Linked DNA regions of Homo sapiens. The protein of the gene in region 3 purifies or fractionates together with the protein of the main gene of each other region. This does not show direct contact. Each region holds a gene or a part of one and is shown on either strand. Other genes may lie near its edges.

Region 1 (6,316 bases), on a different chromosome or scaffold from region 3:
TTAATAACATAATTTAATTAAGCAAGCAAAAACTCACATCCTGACTCCAGGAATAGGTGTAGAATTTGGTTTTCTTTTGTTCTTTTTTAAATTTTAATTTAATTTTTATTTTGTAGAGATGTGGTCTTGCTATGTGGACCAGGCAGGTTTTGAACTCACCTGGCCAGAATTTATTTCTTATTCTAACACAGAGCTTGGAAGTGGCTACAAGTGTCAGGATTGTCTAAATTCTAAGCCCTTTGGAGGATACCATGTTTACTTGACTTTATGATTAAATTCTGAATTACTGAAAGGGCCATCAATCTGTTTTTAAGTCTCTTTGACCAAAGAACTTGTAAATATTTTCAAGTAACAAGCATATGCATCTCTATTGGTTTAATTTATTTTTACCCCATTTAGTGCTTGCTTTGTTTTGATTCTTTTTTTGTTTTTGTTTTTTGAGATGGAGTCTCACTCTTGCCCAGGCTGGAGTGCAGTGGCATGATCTCCACTCACTGCAGCTTCCGCCTCCTGGGTTCAAGCAATTCTCTAGCCTCAGCCTCCCGAGTAGCTGAGACTACAGGCGCGTGCCACCACGCCCAGCTAATTTTTTGTATTTTTAGTAGAGATGGGGTTTCAACATGTTAGCCAGGATGGTCTTGATCTCCTGACCTCGTGATGCGCCCACCTCAGCCTCCCAAAGTGCTGGGATTATAGGCGTGAGTCACCGCCCCCAGCCCTGCTTTGTTTTGATTCTTATCAGTGCTTCAAATACCAATCACTGGGTAGTGTATGATACTCTTGAAGTATTAGTGTGGGCTGCCATAACAAAATACCATAGACTGGGTGGCTTAAACAACAGAAAATTATTTTTTATTTTTATTTATTAATTTTTTTGAGACAGTCTCACTGTGTCGCCCAGGCTGGATTGCAGCGGCTCGATCTCAGGTTACTGCAAGCTCTGCCTCCCGGGTTCACACCATTCTCCTGCCTCAGCCTCCTGAGCAGGTGGGACCACAGGCGCCTGCCACCACGCCTGGCTAATTTTTTTGTATTTTTTAGTTGAGATGGGGTTTCACTGTGTTAGCCAGGATGGTCTTGATCTCCTGACCTCGTGGGATTACAGGTGGGAGCCACAGCGCCCGGCCTAGACATTTATTTTAAGGTTCTGGAGGCTGGAAGTCAGAGATCAGGTTGCCAGTATGGATGGGTTTTGGTGAGGGTTCTCTTCCTGGCTTGCAGAAGATATCCTTCTCTCTGTGTCCTCACATGGTAGGGTGGGTATGGGAATCCTGGGGTCGGGGAGATGAGGGGGGATTTCTCTCTCCTCCTCATTTCATAAGGCCATTAATCCTATTGAATTAGGGCCCTGTGCTTATAACTTAATTTAACATTAGTTACCTCCTAAAAGCCCTTTTTCCAAATAGAGTCACATTGAGGGTTAGGGTATTAACATATAAATTTTAGGGGAACACAGTTCAGTCTATAGCAGAAGATAACTACATTTTTTTTTTTTGTCAGTGCATACAACTTTGGAAGAAAATAATTTGTTTAATATTTAGGTGAACTTTAGATAAGTTTTGTTTTAAGTAACCAGAAGTTGTTTACTAAAGAAGATAAATTAGGGGGGTTGATTGATTTATACAAGATATCCGTTAAATTTTCTAGAAATCTCTTTACACTGGGAACCTTCTATTTTACAATGATTAAAGTAAGTTTTATTAACAGGCAACTTTTCCAAAGACTACTTTGGGTATGAGGCAATGTATGTATATCTAAGTGTAGAGATTGAATGGTGTAGGGTAAAGAGGACAGGCTTTGAAGTTAACTCTGGGTTTGACTCTAGTTTGACATTTACTAAATAATTTATTTTTGAGTGGGTTATAAACATTTTTTGGGATCGAATATACTTTGTGAATTATAGAGCTGTTGAGAAAATTAAATAAAATTCTGGCATAACACTTGGCACACAAAATGAGCTTGATAAGAGTAAATCCCCCACTTTTATGAAAGTCTGACATCTCTTAAGTTTATGTTAAGAATGTGAAAAACCATGTAAGATGGTGCAGCTGCTTTAGAAAACAGTTTGGCAGTTCCTCAAAAGTTAAACATAGAGTTATCGTATGACCCAGCAATTCCTTTCCTAGAAATGAAAACATTTGTCCACAGAAAAACTTGTACACAAATGTCTATAGTATCGTTATTCATAACAGCCAAAAAGCAGAAATAACCCAGGTGTGTCTGATTTCATGAATAGATCATCAAAATGTGGTATGTCCATACAACAGAATAATATTTGGCCATCAAAAGGAATGGAATTCTGATACATGCCACAGCGTAGATGGAAGCATTATGCTAAGTGAAATAAGCCAGACACAAAAGGCGATATATGCCATGATTCCATTTATATGAAATGCCCAGAATAGACAGATCTATATAATAACACCAGAAGATCTCATTTGCTTTTTACGTGAGTTGTTTCTGACATTTTTATTACTTTGGATTAATATTTTGAATTGACATCTTCGTGCTATTTAAAGAAGAGAGATTGAAGATAGAACCACTGGACATTTCTCTGTAGGGAAACAAGCACGTGGGAATGCTGAGGTGGAAACCTTGGTAGTGGTGGCTTTGAAAGGCCTGAACAAATTTTGGAGCTGTATCTTCGTGCTAAGGAGACAGCCAGCCATCTCTTTGGTAGGCCTGTTGTAAGTAAGGATGACTAAAGTCACCAGTAAAATGTGATGAAGCAAATCCATCAGAATCTTCAGAAAACTTAAATCTGGGTGGTGATTTTCTGGGGTTTGTTTACAGTAGTCTCAAATACCAAAAGTTTTGTCTTTGGGGAATGAGGTAATCATGATATTTTTAAATAAACTGAGCCCTTTTCCAGTGGTAAAGGCCTTATAGAACATCTGGTCTTGGTAAGAATACATCTGATGATGTGAAATCAAAATGACTACCTTTAACTGTGCCTTAGAGGTCCTCAGTCTTCTGTCCTTTTTGGTATCTGTTACATTTGCAACTTGGCAGCGGGGGAGCTTTATGAAGAACCAAGAACTTAAGTAAAATAAAATGAATAGCTCTTGAGGTCAAATCTCAAGGGAGTCCAAATTGCTCCTTTTACAGTTCAGTGAAGGGATCTTTTTATGCAGTCTTAATAATTATTATATACTGGTTATTTGAATATCTGCTTTGTTCTGCAGTCTTTCTCCTCCTCCCCCAAATTCTCATGTTAGACTGATATTGCAAGCAAAATTGTGACCGTTCAGTTTTTAACAATTTAAGATTTATGTATCTTAAGTTTTCATTTAAAACTTTTACTTACAGTCTACTTAATTGTGGTCTTTGCACAATTTTTTTAGAATTATTTTTAGAAAAATAAATCAATTACTGTTGTCCATATGTCTGGTCAGTATTTTTTTAAATTACTTTTTTCCTTCCATTGTAAAGTAGTACAGATTTTGAACAGATTTTAGAAGGTATGGAAAGTATAAAACATTTATTTATGAAATGTTAAATCCAAGCCATCTAGTATTTTAATATTTTAATGTGTAGATTTCTAAACTTTTTGTAGTGCATTTGCAGCATTGCAGATCATTGTGCGTGTGCATATGATTATATATAAAAGTAAGATTATACTATTTAAAAATGGAATTATACTATATTTGTATTGTGTATTTTGTAGCTTGTCCCTTTCCATATATATAATATCTATACTTTTTACATTTTATTATTTTTATTTTTTAAATAGGGTCTTAAACTGTCACCCAGGCTGGAGTGCAGTGGTGCAATCATAGCTTACTGCAGCCTCGAACTCCTGGGCTCAAGCGATCCTCCCATCTCAGCCTCCTGAGTAGCTGAGACTACAGATGTGCGCCACCACACCCTCTAATTGTTAAGATTTTTGTGCAGAGACAAGGTCTCGCTATGTTGCCCAGGCTGGTCTTGAACTCCTGGCCTCAAGTCATCCTCCCACTTCAGCCTCCCAAAGCACTCGGATTACAGGCATGAGCTGCTGTGTCCAGCCAGTAATTCTTGTTCCTAACTATATAGCTACATAACTTTAAGTGACTGCATAATATTCCATTGCTTTGGATGGATGACTTTGTCTACTTAAATCTTAAAGATGGACTTTTAGATTTGTTCCATTATTTTTGTTATTATAAAAAACACTGCTGTGAACATCTTTGGTTATATGTCTTTGTGTACATATCTGATACTGTTTTAGGATACATTCCTAGAAGTAAAATCAAGAAGTAGTGCTGTGTTTTGTTTTTTTTTTTATTTTTTGTTTCTTTACCTTTCTGTATCCAGTCTATCATTGTCCTACCAGGTCACCTTCACTTGCTTCTGTCCATCTCACTGCCTCAAGTCCAGGCCACTGTTATCTCTTACCTGAACTATTAGTGTTTCCTCATTTCCATTCATGTCCCCTGTTCTTCATGCATCACTCAGAATACTCTTAAAGTGGAAATCAGATATTGTTATTTCCCATGTAAAGCCTTCAGCGGCATCTTAGACTAAAACCCAAATTTGTCATAAAACCAAAATTATTAAGGTCTTGCGTGACCTGGCTCTGCATTCCAAGTTCCCAGCACAGGCCTCTGTGAGTATGCATAAGTATTTGAGTGAATAATAAACAAAATGACTAAAGGGAGTTGTATCAGTTTTTGATACACGTTACCAGATAAGCAAGAGTAGATGAGATTTCTAGTTACCCCACATTCTGGCCAGCTCAGGCCATTATCGGTCTTTTAATCTTTGCCAATGTGATAGGTAAAAGGTGTTACCTCATTGGTTTAATTTGTATTTCTTTGATTACCTGTAGGGTCTCTTTGTTTGTTTATTGGACAGCTTTATTTTTGTGTGGATGTCTGTTCATGTGCTTTTTCTGTTTTCCCAATGAGATGTGTAGTTTTTCTTCTAATGATTTATAATAATGAGGATATTAACTCTTCATAGTGCATATACATATATCGTATCCGATATTACTGCTGTTTAACAAAGCATCTCAAAGCCTAGTAAAGCTGTTACCCGGGCTGGAGTGCAGTGGTACAATCATAGCTTACTGCAACCTCGAACTCCTGGGCTCAAGTGATCCTCCCACCTCAGCTTCCTGAGTAGCTGAGACTGCAGATGTGCTACGGATTGGCTGGGCAGCTCTTCTTACCTGGACTCATTCGTGTGTTTTCCTTCACTTAGGTTCATCTGGTGTGTCTATCCCATCCCTCTGCCTCATCGCTCACTTAACAATAGCAGCCTCCTCATGACAACATGCCCTAGTATGAAAGCTCTTACCAGACCTCAGCTTGCATCCTGTTTGCTTATGTTTCTTTGGCCAAAACAAGTCATATGGTCAAGCCCAAAGTCAGTGGGGGAGGTGATTACACAAGGACAGATCAAGAGGTGCGATTCATTGGTGGTCATAATGTAAACTTTACTATATGTATCTTCTTTTTTTTTTTTTTTTTCCTGAGATGGAGTCTCACTCTTTCTCACCCAGGCTGGAGTGTGTGCAGTCATGCGATTTCGGCTCACTGCAACCTCTGCCTCCTGGGTTCAAACAGTCCTCCCATTTCAGTCTCCTGAGTAGCTAGGATTACAGGTGTGCGTCACCATGCCTGGCTAATTTTTTTGTATTTGTTCTTATTTTTATTTTTGAGATGGAGTCTTGCTGTGTCCCCCAGGCCGGAGTGCAGTGGTGCAGTCTTGGCTCACTGCAACCTCTGCTTCCCGGGTTCAAGTGATTCTCCTGCCTCAGCCTCCCAAGTAGCTGGAATTACAGATGCACGAGACCACGCCCAGGTAATTTTTGTATTTTTAGTAGAGACAGGGTTTCACCATGTTGGCCGGGCTGGTCTTGAACTCCTGACCTCAGGTGATCTGCCTGCCTCGGCCTCCCAAAGTGCTGGGATTACAGGTGTGAGCCACGGCGTCCAGCTTTTTTTGTGTTTTTAGTAGAGATGGGGTTTCATCATGTTGGCCAGGCTGGTCTCGAACTCCGGACCTCACGTGATCTGCCCGCCTCAGCCTCCTAAAGTGCTAGGATTACAAACATGAGCCACCATGTTCAGCCTTGTATCTTCGGTAATACTGAGTTTTCCATTCTTTTTTTCATCTGTATATTAAGATTTAAAATTTTATCTTTAGTGAAGTGTGCGGCAACTCATTGGTTTTTTTTAATTAAAAACTTTTTTTTTTTTTTTTTTTTAGAGATGGAGTCTTGCTGTGTTGCTCAAGTTAGTCTTCAACTCTTGGCCTTGAGTGATCTGTTTGCCTTGACCTCCCAAAGTGCTGGGATTACTGAACCACAGTGCTTGGCTTAGTTTCTAGT
Region 2 (7,031 bases), on a different chromosome or scaffold from region 3:
GGGGGTGGGTTGAAAGCGGAAGCGCAACCCAATTCAGCATCCATGGGGGTGGGAGGGGTGAGGTTGGTGGAGGGGCCCCAGTTTTTGGGGTGGGAGATGGCGGTGTGAGAGAGGTGCGGGGTTGAGGATAGGAGTGCTGGTGGGGGATAGGGGCGCGGATGGGTTTGGGAGTGCAAATAGTAATGGGAAAGGGGAGGCGGTGGGGGATAGAAATAGGGGTGGGGTACGCTTGGCCCTCTCTTAGGGTCCTGAGGTTGATGCCTCGTAGAGCCTGCCCTCACTAGTCTTACACTAACCACCCCAAGCTCGGACTCCAGAGTCCCATGCGACTTCAGACGCAGTGGGGTGGAGGGCGCCCCAGACTCAGAAGTCCGCCCACGGGTGGCCCACGGCTGGTAGCAGGAGTGGTGCGGGATTATTTGGGGTCGTCTATCTGGGGTGGGGGCCTCCTGAGTCCTCCCTCAGCGTCTCACCTTGACTCCTCACAGGGCCTGGCCCGCTTCCCTCCGCCAATCCCAAGCTGCTGGTCAGACAGAGCAGCTCGCTTCTCTCTAACCCCCAATGCGCAAGTCAGTGGCATCACATCCGGGCCCCTGGGGCTTTCTTGGGTTGAAAGAGGAAGCGGAAATCAGATTCAGCGTGGATGGGGGTGGGAGGGGTGAGGTCGATGGAGGGGGCGGGTTTTTGGGGGTGGGTTGAAAGCGGAAGCGGAACGTGATTCAGTGTGGATGGGGGTGGGAGGGGTGAGGTTGGTACAAGGGCCCGGGTTGTTGGGGTGGGAGATGGCGATATGAGAGAGGTGGGGGGTTGAAGAGGAGAGGAGTGCTGGTGGGGGATGGGGCGTGGATGGTTTGGGAGTGCAAATGGTAATGGGAAAGGGGACGTGGTGGGGGATGGGAATAGGGGTGGGGTACGCTTAGCCCTCTCTTAGGGTCCTGAGATTGATGCCCGGCAGAGCCTGGCCTCACTAGTCTTACACTAAACACCCCAAGCTCTGACTCCAGAGTCCCCTGCGACTTCAGAGGCAGTGGGGTGGTGGGCGCCCCAAGCTCAGAAGTCCGCCCACAGGTGGCCCACGGCAGGTAGGAGTGGTGCAGGATTATTTGGGGTCGTCTATCTGGGGTGGTGGCCTCCTGAGTCCTCCTCAGCGTCTCACCTTGACTCCTCACAGGGCCTGGCCTGCTTCCTTCCACCAATCCCAAGCTGCTGGTCAGACAGCAGCTCGCTTCTCTCTAACCCCCAATGCGCAAGTCAGTGGCATCACATCCGGGCCCCTGAGGCTTTCTTGGGTTGAAAGCGGAAGCGGAAACACGATTCAGCGTGGATGGGGGTGGGGGGGAGGTCGGTGGAGGGGGCGGGTTTTTGGGAGTGGGTTGAAAGCGGAAGCGGAACCCGATTCAGCGTGGATGGGGGTGGGAGGGGTGAGGTTGGTGGAGGGGCCCCGGTTTTTGGGGTGGCAGATGGCGGTATGACAGAGGTGGGGGGTCGAGGAGGAGTGCTGGTGGGGGATGGGGGCGCGGATGGGTTTAGGAGTGCAAATGGTAATGGGAAAGGGGACGTGATGGGGGATGGGAATAGGGGTGGGGTACGCTTAGCCCTCTCTTACGGTCCTGAGATTGATGCCTGGCAGAGCCTGGCCTCACTAGTCTTACACTAAACACCCTAAGCTCTGACTCCAGAGTCCTCTGCGACTTCAGAGGCAGTGGGGTGGTGGGCGCCCCAGACTCAGAAGTCCGCCCACAGGTGGCCCACGGCTGGTAGCAGGAGTGGTGCGGGATTATTTGGGGTCGTCTATCTGGGGTGGGGGCCTCCTGAGTCCTCCCTCAGCATCTCACCTTGACTCCTCACAGGGCCTGGCCCGCTTCCCTCCGCCAATCCCAAGCGGCTGGTCAGAGCAGCTCGCTTCTCTCTAACCCCCAATGCGCAAGTCAGTGGCATCACATCCGGGCACCTGGGACTTTCTTGGGTTGAAAGCGGAAGCGGAAACCCGATTCAGCGTGGAAGGGGGTGGGAGGGGTGAGGTCGGTGGAGGGGGCGGGTTTTTGGGGGTGGGTTGAAAGCGGAAGCGCAACCCAATTCAGCATCCATGGGGGTGGGAGGGGTGAGGTTGGTGGAGGGGCCCCAGTTTTTGGGGTGGGAGATGGCGGTGTGAGAGAGGTGCGGGGTTGAGGATAGGAGTGCTGGTGGGGGATAGGGGCGCGGATGGGTTTGGGAGTGCAAATAGTAATGGGAAAGGGGAGGCGGTGGGGGATAGAAATAGGGGTGGGGTACGCTTGGCCCTCTCTTAGGGTCCTGAGGTTGATGCCTCGTAGAGCCTGCCCTCACTAGTCTTACACTAACCACCCCAAGCTCGGACTCCAGAGTCCCATGCGACTTCAGACGCAGTGGGGTGGAGGGCGCCCCAGACTCAGAAGTCCGCCCACGGGTGGCCCACGGCTGGTAGCAGGAGTGGTGCGGGATTATTTGGGGTCGTCTATCTGGGGTGGGGGCCTCCTGAGTCCTCCCTCAGCGTCTCACCTTGACTCCTCACAGGGCCTGGCCCGCTTCCCTCCGCCAATCCCAAGCTGCTGGTCAGACAGAGCAGCTCGCTTCTCTCTAACCCCCAATGCGCAAGTCAGTGGCATCACATCCGGGCCCCTGGGGCTTTCTTGGGTTGAAAGAGGAAGCGGAAATCAGATTCAGCGTGGATGGGGGTGGGAGGGGTGAGGTCGATGGAGGGGGCGGGTTTTTGGGGGTGGGTTGAAAGCGGAAGCGGAACGTGATTCAGTGTGGATGGGGGTGGGAGGGGTGAGGTTGGTAGAAGGGCCCGGGTTGTTGGGGTGGGAGATGGCGGTATGAGAGAGGTGGGGGGTTGAAGAGGAGAGGAGTGCTGGTGGGGGATGGGGGCGTGGATGGTTTGGGAGTGCAAATGGTAATCGGAAAGGGGACGTGGTGGGGGATGGGAATAGGGGTGGGGTACGCTTAGCCCTCTCTTAGGGTGCTGAGGTCCATGCCTGGCAGAGCCTGCCCTCACTAGTCTTACACTAATCAACCCAAGCTCTGACTCCAGAGTCCCCTGCAACTTCAGAGGCAGTGGGGTGGTGGGCGCCCCAGACTCAGAAGTCCGCCCACGGGTGGCCCACGGCTGGTAGCAGGAGTGGTGCGGGATTATTTGGGGTCATCTATCTGGGGTGGGGGCCTCCTGAGTCCTCCCTCAGCGTCTCACCTTGACTCCTCACAGGGCCTGGCCCGCTTCCCTCCGCCAATCCCAAGCTGCTGGTCAGACAGAGCAGCTCGCTTCTCTCTAACCCCCAATGCGCAAGTCAGTGGCATCACATCCGGGCCCCTGGGGCTTTCTTGGGTTGAAAGAGGGAGCGCAACCCGATTCAGCGTGGATGGGGGTGGGAGGGGTGAGGTCGGTGGAGGGGGCGGGTTTTTGGGGGTGGGAGATGGCGGTATGAAGGTGGTGGGGTGTTTGGGAGGATGGGGAGCTGGTGGAGGATGGGAGTGTAGATGGGTTTGTGAGTGCGAATGGGAATGGGAAGGGGTTAGGGGATGGGAATGGGGTTGCGGGATGGGAATAGCGGTGTGGTACGCTCAGCTGGCTTTTAGGGTCCTGAGGTTGATGCCTGGCAGAGCCTGCCCCCACCAGTCTTGCACTGATCACCCCAAGCTCTGACTTCAGAATCCCCTGAGGCTTAAGTGGCAGTGGGGTGGTGGCCCCCCCACCACAGACTGAGAAGTCTCCAGGAGTGGCCCAGGGCTGGCAGCAGGGGTGGTGTTGGATTTTTTGTGGTCGTCTATGTGGGGTGGGGGTCCTCCTGAGTCCTCCCTCAGCATCTCACCTTGTCTCCTTATAGAGCCTGGGCGGGCTTCCCTCCGCCAGTCTCAAGCTGCGAGTCAGACGCAGAAGCTCGCTTGTCTCTAACCCCCAGTGCGCAAGTCAGTGGCATCACATCCGGGCAGCTGGGGCTTTCCTTGGTTGAAAGCGGGGGCGGAACCGGGGATCCTGCCTGGATGGGGGTATGGGTGTTGGGGGGTGGGGGTGCAGGTGTGGGGTGGGGGATGAGGGTGCGGGGGTTGAATTGGGGATGGGGGTATGAGGGTGGCACGGGGTTGGGGAGGATGGGGTGCTGGTAGGGGATGAGGGTGTGGATTGGGTTAGGAGTGTGGAAGGGAATGGGAATGGGGTGGGGGATAGGAATGGGGGTGGGGAACCCTCAGCTCTCTCTTAGGGTCCTGACTTTGACGCCTGGCACAGCCTGCCCCCACCTTGCCTCCTCACAGAGCCTGCGCCTGCTTCCCTCCGTGGATCTCGAGTTGCTGGTCAGACCAATGCGCAAGTCAGGGATGTCACATCCGGGCCACCTGGGTTGACAGCAGGGGTGGAACCGGATTCGGCCAGGGTGGGAGTTGGGGTGGGGGAGGAGGCGAGAGGTCCTGGGGTTAGGGGTTGAGGTAGGCGTGCCCCTCAGTCCTTTGATTCCTGGCATAGCCTGGACCCCTGTTCTCTGCGGATGGTGTCTGCTCCCCTCAGACCAAGGTTCTGACTCCTAGTCCCCTGAGGTCACAGTGGGGGGAGAGGTGTCCTTGGGCGACAAAGCCGCTGGGGTCTTCCAGGGCTGACAGGAGGGACTAAGCTGGATTCTGTGGCCCCTCTTTGAGCGGGGGTTTACCCTCAGTCTTCACTCAGGAGGGTCCTCTTCCTGGGTCCTGGCTCTTTGTTGAAGTGATGGGTTGGAGATGCTCTTTTTCTCTCACCTCTGAGCATTTGCCCAGCTGTACCCCTTGCAGAAAATGGCTGCGGGTACCAGGCGAGGTGTTCCCTGGGTGGCTGCAGCACCCGTTATTGTAGTGACCTCTGTGAGAAGATGCACGCCTTCCCACGGGGGCTCCTCCCCAGCCAGAGCTGGACTTTGGAAACCTTTTTTCCTCAAAGAAATATATTTTACATATCTTCCAAGGATATATATAGGTAGCAACATATATATTTATTTCTATGAAAGAATACCTACCCTTAGTTTGCATGATTCACTCTGATACCCTATTCAACTTCTATTCCATTGTTTATGTTCTGTTAAAATAATTCTTTTCGAGACCAGCCTGGCCAACAGGGTGAAACACTGTCTTCACTAAATATAGAAAAAAAATTAAAAAATTAGCTGGGCGTGGTGGTGGGCGCCTATAATCCCAGCTACTTGGGAGGCTGAGGCAGGAGAATCGCTTGAACCTGGTAGGCGGAGGTTGCAGTGAGCCAAGATCGAGTCATTGCACTCCAGCCCGGGCGACAGTCTCAATAATAATAATAATAATAATATTAATAATAATAATAATAATAATGCTAATCCTCATCCACTAAGTTGGTTTCAGGTTGTAATTAGCAGATCTCCGGAACCATACTGCCTTAACCAACCCAATTTTCCTGCTGTCCTGCTATTACCCTAGGGTTACTGGAATCGTGTTTTGAGGTGCTGCCTCAGATTGTGCAGTGCAGTGAGGTGGAGATTTTAAAATGTTCATCCTATTCATTCTGTCATCTGACGTCTAGGCAGGCTATAGACTTCAACATCCCTGCAGCCAACCCCCCTCCAACTGACACCGCCCCAAACATAAGTACCAGTTCAACACAGTCCTCAGTCTCACCCAGGACTTTCTGTGTTTTGTTGCTTAGATTTTATTGCTTATATTGTTGTTTTTTCTTTCTTTCTTTTTCTCTTCTATAATTTTCCAGAGTTGATTTGGGAACCAGAGAACAGCAGCCTAAGTGTGACTGTAATTTTTGGCAGCTACAGGTAAGACACTAAATTGTAAATCATTTAAGCAGAATTGACATTTTTACAATGTTCTGCTCCTGATCAATGAATAGGTTATGCTCCTTTACTTATTTCAAACTCCTTTTACCTGAATCTGTCAGTATACTTTGATAGTTTCCTCTAGAAAGACCTTACACATTTTTCTTAGGCTTCTTTTTTGGTAATTCTTGGATTTTGTTGCTATTGCAAATGGCATATTTTCTATTAATTGTTCTAATTAATGGAAATTAATTAACTCTAATAGTTATTGCTATTGTGTGGCAGAGAATTTGATTTTGCTATAGTAATCTGTTGTACACCTCATTCTGAAAACCCATTGACTTGAATATTCCACATGCCTTTTTCTTTGAATTTTCAAGAATGATAAGGGTATTATCACTAAACATTATGTATTTTTCCTATATTCATGCCCCTTATTTATTATGATACTTATAGCTCTGACTTTGTGTCTCAATGATGATTTAAAACGTAGAGATAATAGCCTACATCTACTTCGTGTTCCTGCCTTTAATGATAATTCTTTGAACTTCTTAAATTTGTTTGCTGTTGATTTTAGGAAATGTATGTTCTCTTTCAATATAGGTTAACTAAATATTTTTACCATGAACTCATATTGAATTTCTTCCAAAAGCTTTTCCTGTACCCATTGATGTGATAAATTTTTTCTCCTCTATTTTGTGTGTAAAAAATTACAATGAAACTTTTTTTTCTAATGTTAAATCATATTTTCTTTCCTTGGGTAGAGCTTGTTTGTTCATTTAATATTCTACTAATTTACATAAGATATTTGCTGCTATGTAAGAGAGCTTGTTTATGTGTTTTTTCCATCGGGAGTGGGGGGTGGTCCTCATCTGATTTTTGAATCCAGAAGGGTTAATCTGGGAGAATGAATTGAAGAATTGTCTATATTTTGCGTGCTTTGAAGAGTTGAGATAAGATGATGGTTAGTTTTCCTTGATCATTTGGTGGAATCAGCCTCCGAAACCGACTAACCTGGGACGTTTGAGGATGGCTTGAGCTTTGAATATTGTATAGTTTCAGTTTGTGTCGTTTAATTGAAGTTTTCTTTTTGGATCAATTTGGTCATTTGTTTATTTTATTTCTACAAAATAGTTGGATCATTTAGGATTTCATTTTTAATGGCATGATATTTATGACAAAAAACGTTTTTTTATCAGGGAAGCCTCACACATATAGAATAATAGAGAGACTAACATAATGAACCCAGCATACCTGACG
Region 3 (6,316 bases):
AAAGAGCAAGGGGAATGAAAACTCTACTTTTCTGTCTCTCTCCTACCCTCTACATCTCTTACTGACCCCTCCCTTTGGCTGAGTCTCACCAGACGCCAAAGTGGTGGGAAACTGGTTAAAATAGTCCATAGAGGTCAGCTTCTGGACCACAGCACAGAGTAGAGAATGATGATGTGATCTGGAGAGGCAAACAGAAAATGAAACAAATCTTTGTCTTTGTAAGGCTTATATTCTGTAATATATAATGCACTTAACATTGTACCTAGCATAGATTGTGGGTTCAATAAATATTAGTTATTGGTAGTATTGCTTACAGTAATAATATTATGGAGAGAAGATTTTTAAGACTTTTGTAATAAATTTCCTGTTTTACTTTGATTGTACTTTCAGTAGTAAGGTATTTTTTTTTCTTAACCATTCCCTAAGGGGTGTGTGTGTGTGTGTGTGTGTGTGTGTGTGTGTGTGTGTGGTTTATTTTACTTTGTCTTATTTTGGTGGTTAAAATAACAACAATGACAAAACATACACACACATAACATTAAATATACCATCTTGACAGTTTTTAAGCTTATAGTTCAGTAGTGGTAAATATATTCACATTGTAGGGACTTAAGATTTTAAATAGAGTCATGAGTTACTTAATGAAGATATATTCTGAGAAATATGTTGTTGGGCAATTTTCTTGTTGTCCGACCATCATAGAGTGTACTTACACAAACCTGCATGAGTAGCCCACTACACACCTAGCCTACATGGTGTGACCTGTAGCTCCGAGGCTACAAACCTGCACAGCATATTACAGTATTACTGAATACGTAAGCAATTATAATGGTATTTGTTTATCAAAACAAAAAGTACAGTAGAAAATATGGTAATCTTATAGGACCACCATCATATATGCAGTCCAACATTGAGCAAACTATCCTTATGCAGCACGTGACTATACTTATGAGGCAGACATCTTTAGAAAGGAATCTTTTGGCAGGGGGGATTAATATTGTCTCAGGATTTTTTCTTAGGGAGAATTTGAAGCATTCATTTTCCAAACTCCAGTCTAAATCATTGCCCCTGACAAGTGACTTTCAGATCACTTCTCTATCAGATCAAATCTATCAGATGAATCTTACAGAAAAATGCTTTTCCTCATGTTGTAAGAAGTTAGCAGGGAAGGTTCTGTCTCTTATACCATCAATATGAGAGCACAAACAATGAAAATCTTGTTTTTCATTTTCAAAAGTAATGTTTAACCTAGGTCATTACAGACACTGGAATCATTTTTAAATGATTTAATTATATTTGCTCAACCTCTATTATTAATTGATAGGTGAGCTAATGTGTTTTAGAATATTTTCAAAGGCAATAATTAAAATATTTCTGGCTTGCCTTTATTTAACCAAAAAGTTTAGTTAATAAAGTACTGCATTTCTCAAACATTAGAACTTCAATAAGTTATGAAGATTTTTTTTTGTAATTGTTATTCACAATGTATGTCCTAGCAATTTTTTTACTTACAGACTCTCAAATCACTTTACATATATTAGGAAAATGTACATTATTTGAGAGGCAAAAGTGGCAAATGTAAATGGCAGTTCTTCAAAAGTAAAGCAGAGCACCAAGACACCGAATAGTCATTACCTTAAAGTACACATAAAATCAGCTTAAATGAACCTAAAGCCCCTTTAGTGTGAGTGCACCTGTTTGTGGATAGCTTTTATTACACTGGCCCAAAATGAATAAGACTGTAAGACTTTCTTTTATGGTTTATTTTTTAATATTAAAAAAATTAACATCCTCTGCAGACTTTTCCTTTGCAGCAGCAAAGTACATCAACTGTCTTTTTCATCTTTATTTCCAGCCAACTCAGACAGTAATGCCAGGACAAGTCATGCGGGTTACAACAGGTGCTCCAATACCCTGCGGTGCTGATGCAGTAGTACAAGTGGAAGATACCGAACTTATCAGGGAATCAGATGATGTACGTCATCACCAAGTCTTACTGTGCTGTTGTTCCTATGGCAGTATTATGTCACAACCATTTTCTGCAGTGTTTGTGAGATTAACCCAGTTTTTTGGGTTGTTTAGTTTTGTTTTGTTTTTGCTTATGGTGGGATCTTATATTGTAGTATATGAGTCTCCAGTAAATAAGAAATTTCCTTAATCTTGAAAATCTGTTGTTACAGGAGGGGTTTCTATGATCATTGCTGTTATAGCAGAATTTGAATCATATTTGACCCAAGCAGTTTCACATGCAAACAACGAAAGAAAGTACCTCAAGAAAGAAATGCAGAGATATTAATGGTTGACATACCTTCCAGAGCAGAGATATTAATGGTTGACATACCTTCCAGCTGAGAAATTTGCCATTGAGACTAGCTTCTGATAAAATGTCAAGGAGTTCATGAAATCAGAATTTACTAGAGAAGAATTTAACAAAGAGCACTTGGGCAAGTTCTTGAATATTACACTAAGCCAAGCATTTGAACCAAATGACCCTTTCACCTCTGGTTTTCTGTAAGTCTGGAAAAAGCTGTGCCACCAAATGACAGCCTGGAAATATTAAGTGTATGTCAGTTCTCCCTCCATTGCCTCAAGTAAAAGATGCTGGAATCTTTTTGGACCTAAGCAAGCCTTTATCTCACTGAAAATAGTGGCAGGTTATTGAAACCAGAGTATAAGCCAGTAATAAAAGTAGAATAGATTCAACTGAGGTTTTAATAATCAGCTCTCTTACTTGTTTTATGAAGAAAGTAAAGATATATTTTAAAGCTGAGGTGAAAAATAAACATATATTCTCCCAAGCCGAGTAGATAGTAAAATTGGCCATGCCAAGAGACAGACACTTTCCCTGATCTGGAGATTTTCTTTTTAATCACCTTTCCATATGTAAGGCTTATAAAATTCAACCCTTGGCAAACAGATCACATTGCCTGCTGTTAAAACTGCCTAAGCAGATTTATTGGCATCAGGGAAGCCAGCAAAGCACTGAATTCCAGAACACATACATCCACAGACTCTGCCAGATGACAAGACACAGTTCCAATGTCACAATATTATTCACAGCCCATAAATGTAAAATTGATTACTGCAATTAATGGACAGAAATCTACTACCAGGCAAACTATAAGTCCTTTACTGAAATTTCTGCAAGTATTTGGTAACCTTGGCATGGTATTGAACCCATGATTCATGGGAAAAGAAGGAAGATATTACCTCCACACACGTTCACTTTATTAGGGTAGCCACCTACATATGTATATAAAAATATATAAACAAATTCTATATAATGTATTAGTTCAAATATTAAATCTTATAAACAAGATTTAATATTTGAATTGGTACATTTTTTAAAAGCATAAAAATTGGAGAAAAAAATTTTTTATTTATTGGCACCAAACCTTCTAATTTTTCAGGAACCTGTGTTAGAAATTCAGTGTTTTCAAAGGGTGTAGCAAATAGTTTTCTTTTTGTCTATATTTGTATATATCCTGGGCCTATCTGATGGTAAAAGTATCGGAGTAACTAAATTCTACTGCTCAGAAATTCTGTTTGAAATTACATGACCGGCTGTTATTATAGGGCACTGAAGAACTTGAAGTGCGAATTCTGGTGCAAGCTCGGCCAGGCCAAGATATCAGGTAACTTCAAAACACATAGAATATATAGCCTACTTTTGTTTCTACATGATCATTTACTCAGGAAACCCTGGCTACTATAAATCTGCAGCCATGTCAGTTAGCCATTAATTTTCAGGGCTTTAACAAAAAGCAAAATGAATGTTATGAATTCTGTATCACATATCTGCCCTGCCTACTTTTTAATGAAGATGGTAAAGGCGAGTTAGTCAAAAGCAAGATGAGAAAGAGGTAAAGTCATGAGCCTACATATTCTACAGTTAATTCTACTTCTAGATAATCCAGAATTACCCAATCCCATCCCTAAATAATCTGGAATTTGGTATCAACTCAGATAATACCAGAATTGGGTATTTACACAATTAACTAATAGCATATGCTCTAGTGACTACCAATAATAATGGAATAATCTGTTCCTTGTTATATACAAAGATGAGGCTATTTGCTATGATAAATAGTGCATATACCTTAAATTATTTTTCTTAAAATGGAATATGTTTACCCTGATTCCATTAATACTAATTTGCTGAACATCCCTTTGTAACGAAGCTACACTTCTCCCATCCCTATGGCAGCACACCAAGGTTAATGTACCTCAGTAGCCACAGATCAGGACCAACCTAAGTGGTCCATATGGAAATTACCTCTATGACTGTAGCCTCATTAGCATTATTCTCCTTGACAAAGCTAGCCAGCTGTGGACCTCTTATCATTAATGCCGCTAGATATTGCCATACAAATTCTTGCCTTATCAAAGAAAGTTTACAATTGGTATTTTTACTATAATGTAACATAAAACAATTTGTAAAGTAATTTTATTCACAGGTACTCATGAAAAAAAATTTCAAATATGAAGTAACATGTTTTTCTTTAGCAGTAATACATTCAAATCCTATTTCTGTTTTCTGTTGTGTGATTTAACTTTTAAAATTAAAAAAGCATAGGATTTTTAGAATCCCTTCAATTCATTGTTTTCCTACTACTTTATTTCTAGACTTTTTTGTCTTCTTGAATGTCCTTTTTTGACACTAAAGTTTCCCTCTGAGTTGAGAAAATGTTGTTCTCTAATCACACTGCTTATGGTTCTGCTTTGACTTTCAGACCCATCGGCCATGACATTAAAAGAGGGGAATGTGTTTTGGCCAAAGGAACCCACATGGGCCCCTCAGAGATTGGTCTTCTGGCAACTGTAGGTGTCACAGAGGTTGAAGTTAATAAGTTTCCAGTGGTTGCAGTCATGTCAACAGGGAATGAGGTATTAAAAATAAAAATGGAGGGAGTGGGGAGAGGGCCCATAAGATAAAGGTATTTCTGACATATGTTCTGTGTTGTAAATAGAATGTTGTAGATTATAGATCATACCAGTGGATCCACATTCTTATAACAGGGAAACAATAAATTGGCTTTAGGATAGTTTCAAGTTCAGAATATGAGAACAAAGAAGAACTAGTAAAAATTATGTATTATGAAATGTTCTCTTCTATTAGAATGAAATATTATAACCAATGGCCTTTCCACAAAGTCAGTACACATAAGCAAAAAACTTTAGCTGCTAGCTATAGATATTAAACTATACAAACTCAGTACTGTTTCTGTTTAGACAATGAATTGTGCCCATCCTGCTGCTGAAATGATGAGCTACTTCTGTGTGGGAAGTATCAATGAATCAGGACATCATGGCTAGCACTTCTTGTGAAAAGTTCCATTTGATCTTTAATCACTAAGAGGGATTTGATAATCAGGTTTTTTTTTTCCTCTCTCTCTCCCTAAAGATAGCATCTCTAGTGGCATGATATTTAGAATGGGTCAAAATGTCTTTTCATTCCTGATTTAGAAAAGAGAATTTAGTCCATCTCTTTCTGAGAACTCTTGAAAAACTTCCTATTGCTTGTTTTGCTTAGGTTGTGCAAAACTTCAGTCAGAAGCTCCAAGGTCAAATGGAGAATACTAAAAAGTGAATCTGCTGGAAACTCAAAACCTTATAAAAGAATCAGAAACTATTGAGATTTTTAAAAGTATTAATAATTCCTTTGACCTTACTATTAAAGAAAAGATTAGCGGGATTTTTTAAAAATCTCTTTGTTCTGAAAATAAACCCATCATTATTTTTAATTTCTTGAAGTCTTGGAAATGAAAATTTTCAGAGGTCTTTTTATGACATTATAGTCCTTTTGGTTAAAGCAAAAGAATAGACTGTTTTATTTTGCAAATAGATAGCTAAATCAACATTCCAGATGTGCTTACTTCCCAGTATATATGCACTAGTCATTTCCAAAAACTATTGATTGACAAAAAACATTCTTTTCAATTTGATCTACATAGTAATGATTTTAATATCCTTAGAACCAAATAACACTATATATAGCATCAGAAATAAATTTTTGTTAAACTGGTTGACTCAGTGAACTATTCTTTTTTATGATATACTTACATGCTTTGTGCAACAAGTAAGTTCATGGAGTTTGAGAAAGCTAAACAGTAGCACACTCATGGACCAGGCATGGTGGCTTATTCCTGTAATCCCAGCATTTAGGGAGGCTGAAGCAGGGGGATCAATTGAGGCTAGGAGTTCAAAACCAGCCTGGGCAACATAGCGGGACCCTGCCTCTACTAAAAAATTAAAAATAGCTATGCATGGTAGCACATGCCTATAGTCCTAGCTACTGAGGAGGCTGAGGTGGGAG
Region 4 (5,516 bases), on a different chromosome or scaffold from region 3:
CCAAAGTGCTGGGATTACAGGTGTGAGCCACTGTACCCAGCCAGAAGTTTCCATTTCTGACAGTCCAGCAACTCCCTGCTTGACTGACCAGTCGCTTCCCTCCAGGTCCGCCTCTTCCTTGAAGCCCCTGGGGGGTGGGAACAGAGAAAGAACTACCAAGTGCTCTGAGCCGGCCTCATGTCTCCCAGCCTCCTCCTCTCATCTTTGGGGAGGTTCCTTGTGGGGAGGCCACCACCACCCTGAGCCCATCTGTGAAGGAGGGGCTGGTGTCACTGCCACAGCAGCGCACAGCATCTGCCCCCCTTTGGCCCTCAGGAGAGGGAGCTGGAGCTGCAGAAGGAACAGCGGCGGCAGGAGGAGAACGACAAGCTGCGCCAGGAGTTTGCCCAGCACGCCAACGCCTTCCACCAGTGGATCCAAGAGACCAGGTGCCAGCCCGCTGGGGCCGGGGAGCAGCAGCATGTCCCTGCTGTACTTAAGCCCTGGGGAGCTTCCAGCCCCAAGGAGGTGGTGGTGCTTTGTGTAAAACCAGAGGCAGCCTGGGAATAAAGCTGGGCTGGCAACGCCTGGTCGGGCTCTGGAGCCGGGAGTGGGGGCATAGGTGGAGCAGCCTCTCAGTGCTGCATGTCCCAGACATCAAGTTGTTAGAGATCCCGGATTGAGTGGGACCATGCAGGGCGCGTGGTCAGCCCCAGCCATGACTTGGTGACAGACGATGCAGGGTCTGTGCGTTGGGTACTGATGTTCTTGCTTTTGTTTTCCTTTCTTTCTTGTGTCTTCTCTCTGTCCCCCCGATTGCTGCTGTTGTCCGGACACCACCTTGTCTCCCGGCTGCTTGGATCTGCTCTCCACAGGACATACCTCCTCGATGGGTTAATATTGTTTTCTTCCTTCTCTGGGCTTGTCATGTGGGGGTCTCGTGCGCTTGCCCCTCGTGGCCTGGCTTGTGGAGGATCCCGGGATGGGCCTTCCTGCCCAGGGCGGGCTGCACTTCCCCTCCCACCCTTCTCGTCACCTGATGAGGAGTGTGTGCCTTGCCCCATAGCCCATGGTCCCTGGTCCCCGATAGAGCCTTCAAGCCAGGGGGAGCCGTCCTTGCCTCACTGGGCGATTCCAAGGGCTCACTTTGGGTAGGGAAGGTGATGAAGCACGAAGGCCAGAGCTGGAGTCCAGAGGCCCTAAGAACCCCCGTGCCTGTCCAGCCACCGGGCTCTGTTGGGCTCTCACCTCTGCTTCCCCAGCGAGTCCAACAGTGGTCAGTGGGCATGAAGCAGATGGCAGTGCTGGGGGCTCAGGCAGGGTACAGTAAGTCCACAGCTGAGAAGGGCTGGGCACTGACACCCCCTAAGTAGCTGAGGCTGCCACTTTACTTTCCTGGGGTCAGGGAGGGTAACAAGACTGTCCGCCCTAATAGAAGGCAAAAATGCACCCGTTATGTGATAGACAGGACGTGGGAGGAGCCCCAGGGAGGAGCAGGGCTGGGCTGTCCCGCCCAGTCCCGGCAGGGACTTCTCTGCTTGGCCTGGGGCCTCTGCCTGGCCGGGTCACCTTTGTAATCTGCCAAGCCTGCTGTGAAAGCCAGGGCTGCTGGGACTGGAGTGGCTTGGCCTGCACTCCTGAGGCTCTGCACCCAGGCACATCAAGCCTGTATAGGCGGCCAGGGGAGAAATAGACCCATCCAGCCGGGCCACACATTCTGATGGCAGAGCAGCTGGGGACGTAGGGATCGCAGTTTCCGGCCTGTGCCCGTAGGACACCCTGGCCACCTGACTCCCCTCCCTGCCCCATGCCTGTGTCTGCTGGTCTTGCTCTTGTCTCCGTGAGGTGCCACGCTCCCCTCACCTTATGGCTCCTCCCAAGCCCTGCCCATCTTGCCCATTCCTAGTGTGAGCTGCCTGGGGTGAACCACTGGGCCTGCTGCCTCCAGGTACCCGCCGGGCACCAGGTTGCCCTTGCCTGCGCCCTGCCAGCTTGGGCTTTGTGTGTGTCTGTTGCAGTGTGCTCTTGCCTCCCCTCCCTTTGGTGTATTCATTTGGTTTCTTTTCTTTGAATAGCATAGCATATCGTCGGGTCATTCGTGTCTATCAGTATGAAGTTGGGGATGATCTGTCTGGAAGGTTTTTCTCCTTATTTCTCTTCTTACCTCACTGTGGCTTTACTGATGCACTCTTGACATCCCCAGGCGGCTCCACCCTGACTAACCTGCCGCCCTCGGCTGCTTGGGAAGGAGGGGTCTGTCCTCCCACTGCACCGGCACCCAGCCTCCTGCCCCCAGGTCCTGGGGGGCATTTTCCCCGGGGGGACATGGCGTGACTGTGAGTCTGACCTGCTGGGGTAGGAGGAAGCCTGGTGCCTTGCCTTGCTAGAGCACTTTGAACCTGGGGAGATTGCAGAGCTAACCCTGGCTCGCCGGGTTTTAAAAGGGTAGGTTGGGGTGAATGTGGGTACAGGGGAGCCTGGGCTAAAACCCCACCAAGGCCACACGCACCGTGTGATTCGTCCCTGCACGTAACCCTAACTCGTTTGTTGTCTTTGTTTACTGGTAGCCTCTGTGACCTGGCACTGTGTTCTCTTGGGAAGGAGGCTCCCCAGAGCCCATCTGCTCTCAGAACTTGGTCCTAGAGAGGAGGCTCCCTCCCTGGCTGTGTCTAGAGGATGGAACCGGGATCTGGGGTTTAGTCACAGCCATCTCTCTCCTTTTGGCACAGTTGGTCGTGATCTCCCAGCACTCCACTTGTGTCCTTTGTCTGCAGGGTCGTGCTCTCATTCCCCCTAGAATGGGGCTCCCTCCCTCAGGAACCTTGCCGGGACACTCCAGGGTTTCTGTGGGGAGGCTGTCAGGTTCTCAGCCTCCCCTCTGCCCTGAGGTCTCCTGTCTGTCAGGTGTCAGGGTGTGCCATCCCCCACATGGCTGCAGAGAGGATGCTCAGACAGGCCTGCAGCCACCCTGCACCCATGGGGGAATTTAAACTCCATTCCTGAGTCATCCTGGCCTTGGGAGCAAGACGAGTGGGCTCAGCCCTGGCCCACACCAAGGCAGCAGCTTCCCATCTCTAAAACGGGAGAAATGCTCCCTGCCATCCCTCGATCCCTGGGGCCCATTAGGTAAAGATGGCCAGTTGCAGTTAGGTTTGGTTTCCTTAAAAGGAATGTGAGGTTGCCAGGCATTGCTCTCTCTGAGAGAAGGTTCATTCTGAGCTCTCGGCCAGCTGGGAGCAGGCCCCTTTCCTCACTGTCCTTCCACGTTTAGGTCCTGTATGGTGGAAGAGTCGGGGACCCTCGAATCCCAGCTTGAAGCTACCAAAGTAAGTGCCCGTGGGGCTCTGGCCCAGCAGAGACCCTTCACCCAGCCACCCCCCAGGGTACCCCTTCCCTTCCTGGCTTAAAGTCAGGAACCAGATGTGCTATTATTGTACCCTTTTCCCTTGGCCTAAAGCAGTCTAGGGCTCTTCACTATCTCTCTCTCTTTTCTTTCTTTCTTCATGGAATCTCTCTCTCGCCCAGGCTGGAGTGCAGTGGTGCGATATTGGCTCACTGCAACCTCCACCTCCCAGGTCAAGCAATTCTCCTGCCTCAGCCTCCCAAATAGCTGTACTACAGATGTGTGCCACCACATTTGGCTAATTTTTGTTTATTTTTAATTATCTTTTGAGATGGAGTTTCACTCTTGTTGCCCAGGCTGGAGTGCAATGGACGTGGTCTTGGCTCACTGCAACCTCCACCTCCTGGGTTCAAGTGATCCTCCTGCCTCAACCTCCCAAGTAGCTGGGATTACAGGCGCCCACCACCACACCTGGGTAATTTTTGTATTTTTAGTAGAGACAGGGTTTCACCATGTTGGCCAGGCAGGCTGGTCTCGAACTCCTGACCTCGGCTGATCTGCCCGCCTCGGCCTCCCAAAGTGCTGGGATTACAAGCGTGAGCCACCACATCTGGCCTAGTTTTTATATTTTTAGTAGAGACAGTGTTTTGCCTTGTTGGCCAGGCCGGTCTGGAACTCCTGATCTCCAGTGATCTGTCCACCTCAGCCTCCCAAAGTGCTGGGATTACAAGCATGAGCCACCACTCCCGGCCGAGGGCTCTTCACTTTAAAGAAAGTCTTTGGGGCTGGGTGTGGTGACTTACACCTGTAATCCCAGCACTTTGGGAAGCCGAGGCGGGTGGATTGCTTGAAGTCAGGAGTTCGAGACCAGCCTGGCCAACATGGGGAAACCCCATCTCTACTAAAAATACAAAATATTAGCTGGGTGTGGTGGCAGGCACCTGTAATCCCAGCTACTCAGGAGGCTGAGGCAGGAGAATCACTTGATTCTGGGATGCGGAGGTTGCAGTGACCCGAGATCAGGCCATTGCACTCCAGCCTGGGTGACAAGAGCAAAACTCCCTCTGAAAAAAATTACTTGGGCATGGTGGCCTACACCTGCTCAAAGTCCAGCATGGGCAATATATAGCAAGACCTTGTCTTAAAAATAAGGCTGGGTGCAGTGGCTCATGCCTATAATCCCAGAACTTTGGGAGGCCAAGACAGGCAGATCACTTGAGCCTAGGAATTCAAGACCAGCCTGGTCAATGCAGTGAAACATCGCCTCTACTAAAAATACAAAAATTAGGCAGGTGTGGTGATGGGCACCTGTTAGTTCCAGCTACTCAGGAGATTGAGGCAGGAGAATCACTTGAACCCGGGAGGTTGCAGTGAGCGTGATTGCGCCACTGCACTCTAGCCTAGGCGACAGTGAGACTCCATCTCAAAAAAATTTATAAAAATCTTTGGCCACTGCTTCCTGGAGTCCTCGCCGTACTTGTCCTTGGCGTGCACTGCCCTCTGGCAGGTCTACCAGCTGCTTTGGAACCCTCACATTGAAAGTCTCTCCCTCTATTGAGGTGGTTGGGATTTCTTCAGCTTCACCCCATCCCACTATTCCTATTCTAGAATGTTCTTGTTTTACGAGGTCTCAGGCCAGGCCTGGAGCAGGAACCAGAGGGCAGTAAGTGGCTCCTGGGCTGGTGACTGAGCTGAGGGCCCCCGTCTGAGCATCTGTGCTCCCCACCCCTGCAGCGCAAGCACCAGGAAATCCGAGCCATGAGAAGTCAGCTCAAAAAGATCGAGGACCTGGGGGCCGCCATGGAGGAGGCCCTCATCCTGGACAACAAGTACACGGAGCACAGCACCGTGGGCCTCGCCCAGCAGTGGGACCAGCTGGACCAGCTGGGCATGCGCATGCAGCACAACCTGGAGCAGCAGATCCAGGCCAGGTACCCGGGAGGGCTGTGGGCCAGGCTCAGCCCAGAGCAGGGGGAGGAAAAGACACAGTCACCTGCTGTGTGGAGGGTCTGTTCCCTAATTTCTGTTTTTCTTCCAGGAACACAACAGGTGTGACTGAGGAGGCCCTCAAAGAATTCAGCATGATGTTTAAGTGAGTTCAGCCTTACTCGCCCTGGCTGGGTGGGGGGTGTTCGGCAGCAGGGCTGCCTGCTGAGCCGCCCTCGGCTTTGTGCTGCAGACACTTTGACAAGGA
Region 5 (6,316 bases), on a different chromosome or scaffold from region 3:
CTATTCTAGACATTTCATATCCATGAGTGCAGACAGTACATGACCTTCTATGTCTGGCTTCTCTCACCCGGCAGCATGTTTTCTGGGTCGTCCACGCGGTAGCGTGTGGCAGTGCCTCACTCCTCTTTGTGGCTGAACACTATTCCATTTTCTAGTGGTCTAGATGGACCACGTTTGGTTTCCCTGTTCATCTCCTGACGGGCATTTGGGTTGCTTCCAGCTTTTGGCGATTGTGAACAGCGCTTCTATGAACATGCATGTCTGAGTCCCTGTTTTTAATTCTTTTGGATATACAGGTAAAAGTGGAATTGCTGGGTCCTGCAGTCAATCTACGGTTAACATTCTGGAGAACCACCCTGGTCCAATCTTAAGGCATGCCGATACTTGCTGAATGAGTTGTGGCCTTTGGAGGTGCCGGCTCCGTGTTCTGGAGAAGGGTCCACAGATGTGGATTTTTAACACATGCCCAGGTGAGCACTGGAGCCAGGCAAGTTTGGGAAACACTGACTTACTGGCTGAGAAGTGTAGCATGAGAACCAGCCCGGCTCTCCTCCACTGTGGAGGGGAGTCTGGAAGGCAGCGGAAGTGTCATGCCTCAGGTCAGCAGGCATTCAGAGGGCAGCCCCTGGGTCTCATGACTGATCTTCCCACCCTCTTAGTGTAAAATAGTAACAAAGACAGTCCCCTTCCCCAGCTCTCCTGGCTACTCACTGGGTGTCTCTAACCCTTCGGGCTTCTGAGCTCCACCAGCGCTTGGCATCTGGGCCGGAGGAGGGGTCTCTGGAGGCCTCTGCTCTTCCCCGTCCCAAACGTCCCACAGAGCCGAATTCAGAAAGCTCGGCCTGCTATTCCCCAGGGAGCCCGCGCCCGAGGACTTCTCTTGCAATTTCCTCTGGGTAGTGCAGCTTCCTCGGATGGGGGTGGTGTCCAGGAGTCCCGGGGAGCGACAGTCACGGCTGTCGGCGGCCTCGTTCATCCTGCGGCTGGGGCTGCTGGTGCTCAGGGGGCCGGTCCGCTCCAGGTTCCAGTGGTCAATGGGAATTGGCGAGAGGGGCTCCATGTGCCAGCAGCAGTCGTCAATTGGAATTGGGGGGTCACTGTCCAGTGGGGGGCTTCTGTTGGCCTGATGGGAGGCCACCTCCTGCTCATCGTCACTGTCTCCGACTTCCACCACTTCACCCGCTGGGGTCTGGTTCAGGAAGCTTGGCCCAGGCGGCGAGTGTTTCAGGAACCGCCTGCTGAAGTGGGCGCGGTCCCCTGAGATGGGATGTGGAGCCAGCGGAGAGGAGTGCGGGTGGCCCCCGGGGTGGGGACGGGAAGGGCTTCTGTGGCCTTGCCTTCTGCCGTCAGAAGTTCCTGGAGAGACGGGAGTGAGGCATGAGGACGGTGTCTGGGGCGGTGGTGTCTGGGGCCTGATGACAGAAAACTTCTGTGCGACTTCGTTCCCTTCCCTGTTTCCTACTGAGGCCCTGGGCGTGTGCTGAGTCACCGCCTGCACGGCCAGCCCGCTCCTGAGGCTGCTGATTTGGGTCTGGGAAGAACAGTCACGGCTTCTGCTGGCCAGCGGGGTGGCGGGCACCAGCCACGAGGTGTCTGTGGTGCTGGCCTCGCTGGGGCTGCTCTCACGGTCACAGAACAGCCAGGGAGCCCCTCTCCTGCCCAAAGAGCCCCGATTCTCCGGCAGCGCCCCCTCATCCTCCTGCTGCAGCACAGCTTCGCTTCTTGGTGGGCTCTGGGAAGGTTCCTGATCTGCATCAACATCAATGATGGAAAACAGCTCACAGGACCTAGGGCTAATTTCTAGAGCTTTCTTTTCTTCCAGAGGATCACTAGAAATGGACTTCATTTTGGTTTGTTCTAGCTCCAGCTCCTCATCCGAGTCCAGTAAGAGGATGACCTCATCTTCTTCGTTCAGTTTGGATGAAGATTTCTGAGATCTGGAGCTCGAATGGTCAGGATTTGACTGGGTTAGGTCAATAGACGGAGATTTTTCTGGGAACATCAGGACCCCCTTATTTCTGCACTCCAGCACGGACCGACGCTCTTTGCCTTTCTGGTGCCCTGGCTCTTTAGACAGCGTGAGGATGCTCCTGTCCCTTTTCTGCTTTGATGGCACAGCTGGAGACAGCAAGGTTGGGGAGCCCACCTGGGAAGTTCCGCCACGGGACCGGGGTGTTGACAGGGACGACCCACTTGTGTGATGAGACCCGCGGGGACTCCCGCCCTGGGGAGGCCCCAATAGGAAGCGGCACGGGTGCGGTGGAGATGCCTGCCAGGGAGCCAGGCGATGAGAAACCTCCAGCCCCCTTTCCCTGACAGCGCCACTTTGTTCCTCGGGCTCACTTGTTATTTGGGACGGCTCTGAGATCTCTCCCTGAGTTGATGAGAAGAGCTGTTCGTAATCCCCGGCATCATCTGAGTGCGGAAGAGAGCCTTCTTTTCTCTCTGCCTGGCAGTCCCTGGAAGGGCTGGAGCAGCTGGAATGGCCAAGCGCCTCCTCTGGCGCCTCCTGCTCAGGGGCCTCTGCTCCCCGTGCCCCTGAGTGCTGGCCCTGGGGTGGCGGGAGAGCGCACTGTCCCATCTTCTCCCAGGTGGTGGCGGCCTCATCTCTTCCTGGCTCCAACGGCTCCATCTCCTCCACCTTGTCCCACTGTTTCTGCACCTGGACACCTGCTAGGAGTTGCCCAGAAACCGGACTGCCACCCTCCAGCCAGTCAGCGTCCTCGCCGGCACCCGCTGCCCTTTCTTCCTGGAGAAGCTTTCGCTGAGTAGCTGCAAATTCATAAATTTCTTCCATTTCTGCTTCATTCACGTTTTCTTGATCTTCTTCGTGGTCCTTGGATTTCAACAAAGTCTCCGCTTCCTCCTCTTCATCTGCCCACATTGACCTCAAGAGTTCCTGGAAATTCTCGGCCCTGCTTTCGCAATTCTCTGCTTCCTTCTCCTCCCATGGTTTGCCCTCTGAGTCAGTGGCAATAGGCACCTGTTCGCACAGGTGAACGAGCTCACTCACGCCAAACCTGCAACACGAAACATCGACAGTCATCGCCCCTCTGCGTGGAGATGGGCTCTGGGTGCCCCGGTGGGGTGGCGGACCAGAGCAGAGTCTTCACCAGGAGGAATGACCATGACCCAGGCCCTGCTTCCCTTTGAAGACGGTGTCCACACTCCTTGCCAGAAACACCCAGGCCACTTAGTTCCAGAAACCGGGGACTGACAACACTTAAAGCAGGGCTTCCTAACTATAGCTGCAGACATAAAGGGGTGTGTCGGACTGAATGTAAGGTAACAGGGATTGGCAGAGCTACAAAACTGGGGAGTCTGTGCTGCCTCAGAGGCTCTTAAGATATGGTGTCAGAGCCAGGCATTGTGGCTCATGCCTGAAATTCCAGCACTTTGGGAAGCCGAGGATCACTCAAGGCCGGGAGTTTGAGATCAGCCTGGACAACATAGAAAGTCTCCATCTCTACAAAAAAATGTAAAAATTAGCCTAGGAGTTCAAGGCTACAGTGAGCTGTGATCATGCCACTGCCATCCAGCCTGGGCAACAGCAAGAGACTCTGTCTCTAAAAGGATAAAAAAGGTCATGCATGGTGGCTCATGCCCATAATCCCAGCACTTTGGGAGGCGGAGGCAGGAGGATTGCTTGAGGTCAGGAGTTCAAGAACAGCCTGGGCAACACAGCGACACTCCGTCTCTCCAAAAAATAAAAAATAAATGAAAAGACATGGCATCAGACACAATCCACAGCACACCAAGTCCTTGAGTCAGCCCAGGCCAACGGGCAAGCCAGCCAGCCACCTGCTTGAAGGCTCTGTGGCCCGTCAGTATATTTCCAACTCCAGAGGCTGAGCTGTTCCTTTCCTAAGAAAGCAGCGGAGGGAGGACGCAGGCTCGGATCAGCGGCCCAGGCCCTGTCCAGAGGCACAACACTTGTCCCTCTGAGCTGCTGCCTCTCTCCTAAGATGCTGGCTGGACAAGCCAGGAGAGCTGTGGCATCTGGGATGCAGCCTAAGCATTCTCTCCATGCCTGTTTTATGGGACTCTGGAAAGGACTGCTGTTGTTCAGGTCTAGTGGTGGAACAATCACTGAGCAGCAGTGTTGGGGGGCGCTGTAGCCAAGGGCCATTCTCTTATCACACCTAGGGGGTTAAAAACCACGGGACTCAATAGAGTCCTCCTGATCCAGTGCTTGGCACCCCTGCAAGGGTCTGTTCTGGCCTGACTTTCACCTAACATGCCCTGTTCCACAGGGTCATCACTGGTCATGGACTTGGGATTAAAAGGTATAAACAGGACTGTTAGTTCTCTTGGCCTCAGCCCCGAGCCCTCTGCAGCACAACCCTCCAGAGCTGTTAACCTGCCAGTCCTCGTCAGTTAATTTCAAAAGCTGGGGAGCAATCCAGACCTGTGGGCCAGGGAGCTCAGCTCAGAGCTAAGGCCAGGAGGAAGGCCAGTGTCCGCAGTGTAGAGATAGTGCAGGAACGTGCGGGCGGCCTCGGTGCTCACGTCACCCAGCAGGACACGCTGGGTCAGAACCCCGTCCTCTACAGCGGAGAAGCCTTCATTGTTCACCTGCAGGTGAAATGCAACACAGAGGGTTTACTGATCAGAGAGTTGTAACTTGGAGCAAAGCAGACGGTCTGGGGTGTCCTGCAAGTCACTAGTCTTTTTATTTTTCTTTTTAGAGACAGTGTCTCCCCTTGTCACCCAGGCTAGAGTACAGTGGTGTGATCATGGCTTACTGCAGCCTTGAACTCCTAGGCTAATTTTAAATTTTAATTAATTTTATTATTTTGAGTTGGAATCTCTCTCTGTTGCCCAGGCTGGAGTGCAGTGGTGAGATCTCGGCTCACTGCAACCTCCACCTCCTCGGTTCCAGCGTATTCTCCTGCCTCAGCCTCCCGAGTAGCTGGGATTGCAGCCGCCCACCACCATGCCCGGCTAATTTTTTATAGTTTCAGTAGAGATAAGGTTTCACTATGTTGGCCAGGCTGGTCTTGGAACTCCTGACCTCAGGTGATCCACCCTCCTCGGCCTCCCAAAGTGCTGGGATTACTGGCGTGAGCCACTGCGCCCAGCCCCTAGGCTAATTTTTAAATTTTTTTGTAGAGATGGGCTCTCACTGTGTTGTTCAGGCTGGTCTTGAACTCCTGGCCTCAAGCGATCCTCCCACCTTAGTCTCCCAAAGTACGGGGATCTCAGGCATGAGCCGCCGTGCCTGGTCCCTAGTCTTAAAAGCAGCTCCATGCCCCAGGAAAAGCATTAGCCACTGTTTATGCAGATTTTTGGCCAATAATTTTACAGGTGAGGCCTAACACTCCTCTTTTGTCAAATCGTATTGGGACTAGATATTCCAGGACCCCGTTAAGAGTCCTCCTGATAGACACATATGGGATCCAGAACTTTGACAAAGACTGAGAATAGCTCCCTGAGTTCCTGCCCACACTCAAGTCAAATGCTTTCAAGTCAGAAGGCAGGTTCATCAGCAACTCATCCCTGAGGAGATCAATTATGAGCCTTTGTAATTATGCAAATAGAGAAAAGAGAAAACAATTCTGGGAAACAATGGATTTTCTTTTTGTTTTGTTTTGTTTTTGAGACAGAGTCTTGCTCTGTCGCCCAGGCTGGAGTGCAGTGGTGCAATCTCAGCTCATTGGAAGCTCCGCCTCCCAGGTTCATGCCATTCTCCTGCCTCAGCCTCCCGAGTAGCTGGGACTACAGGCGCCCGCCACCATGCCCGGCTAATTTTTTTGTATTTTTAGTAGAGACTGGTTTCACTGTGTTAGGATGGTCTTGATCTCCTGACCTTGTGATCTGCCCGCCTCGGCCTCCCAAAGTGCTGGAATTACAGGCGTGAGCCACCGCGCCCGGCCAAACAATGGATTTTCATTCAACAGAACGAAAACACTGATGTTTCCCAGTTGTGAGGCCATCCCCTCACACCCACTCCTAACCTCAAGCGTGGGTCTTTATCTCTTCTCCACGTGTTGCAGAAACGGATGGTTGGGAGGGAGAAGGTGAGAACATGGTGGGGCAGGAAGTGAGGGAGAGTGGGGGGGTGGAAAGGGCACCTGAGACATGGGAAGACCTGGTTGGAGAAAGGCAGGAGGAGAGAGGGAGAGAGAGGAAAGGAGGGCACACGGCAGCCCACGTACTTACATACTGGATGAGGAGCGGGCATCGGGCATAAAGCACGAACTTGTGGGCGTAAAGCACCTCCCCGCTGTCCGTCTGAAACTGGACATCACTCAGGTGTGGGTTATTGACCATGGCGCCAAAGTCAGCAACCAGCAGCCCGAGGGAGAGCTGAAGC

What was found.
Region 1: the proteins of GPHN (region 3) and ENAH purify together in Homo sapiens (affinity purification with western blotting, with the first as the bait; one study listed by BioGRID). This does not show direct contact.
Region 2: the proteins of GPHN (region 3) and MAGEA4 purify together in Homo sapiens (co-immunoprecipitation; one large-scale study listed by IntAct). This does not show direct contact.
Region 4: the proteins of GPHN (region 3) and SPTAN1 fractionate together in Homo sapiens (co-fractionation; one large-scale study listed by BioGRID). This does not show direct contact.
Region 5: the proteins of GPHN (region 3) and SLX4 purify together in Homo sapiens (co-immunoprecipitation; one large-scale study listed by IntAct). This does not show direct contact.

The regions. Positions count from the first base shown.
Region 1 is NC_000001.11:225,641,347-225,647,662, reverse strand, and holds part of ENAH (protein enabled homolog), read left to right. Parts: intron 1-6,316. UniProt on the Homo sapiens protein: Ena/VASP proteins are actin-associated proteins involved in a range of processes dependent on cytoskeleton remodeling and cell polarity such as axon guidance and lamellipodial and filopodial dynamics in migrating cells.
Region 2 is NC_000023.11:151,909,763-151,916,793, reverse strand, and holds the start of MAGEA4 (melanoma-associated antigen 4), read right to left. Parts: upstream 3,906-7,031; 5' UTR 3,825-3,905; intron 1,285-3,824; exon of another isoform or gene 1,157-1,284; intron 558-1,156; exon of another isoform or gene 474-557; intron 1-473. UniProt on the Homo sapiens protein: Regulates cell proliferation through the inhibition of cell cycle arrest at the G1 phase. Also negatively regulates p53-mediated apoptosis.
Region 3 is NC_000014.9:67,108,285-67,114,600, forward strand, and holds part of GPHN (gephyrin), read left to right. Parts: intron 1-89; exon of another isoform or gene 90-178; intron 179-1,855; coding exon 1,856-1,975; intron 1,976-3,576; coding exon 3,577-3,635; intron 3,636-4,733; coding exon 4,734-4,887; intron 4,888-6,316. UniProt on the Homo sapiens protein: Microtubule-associated protein involved in membrane protein-cytoskeleton interactions. It is thought to anchor the inhibitory glycine receptor (GLYR) to subsynaptic microtubules.
Region 4 is NC_000009.12:128,627,071-128,632,586, forward strand, and holds part of SPTAN1 (spectrin alpha chain, non-erythrocytic 1), read left to right. Parts: coding exon of another isoform or gene 1-20; intron 21-315; coding exon 316-428; intron 429-854; coding exon 855-872; intron 873-2,054; coding exon of another isoform or gene 2,055-2,117; intron 2,118-3,250; coding exon 3,251-3,305; intron 3,306-5,056; coding exon 5,057-5,253; intron 5,254-5,360; coding exon 5,361-5,414; intron 5,415-5,501; coding exon 5,502-5,516. UniProt on the Homo sapiens protein: Fodrin, which seems to be involved in secretion, interacts with calmodulin in a calcium-dependent manner and is thus candidate for the calcium-dependent movement of the cytoskeleton at the membrane.
Region 5 is NC_000016.10:3,588,291-3,594,606, forward strand, and holds part of SLX4 (structure-specific endonuclease subunit SLX4), read right to left. Parts: intron 6,310-6,316; coding exon 6,163-6,309; intron 4,576-6,162; coding exon 4,409-4,575; intron 3,021-4,408; coding exon 712-3,020; exon of another isoform or gene 1-711. UniProt on the Homo sapiens protein: Regulatory subunit that interacts with and increases the activity of different structure-specific endonucleases.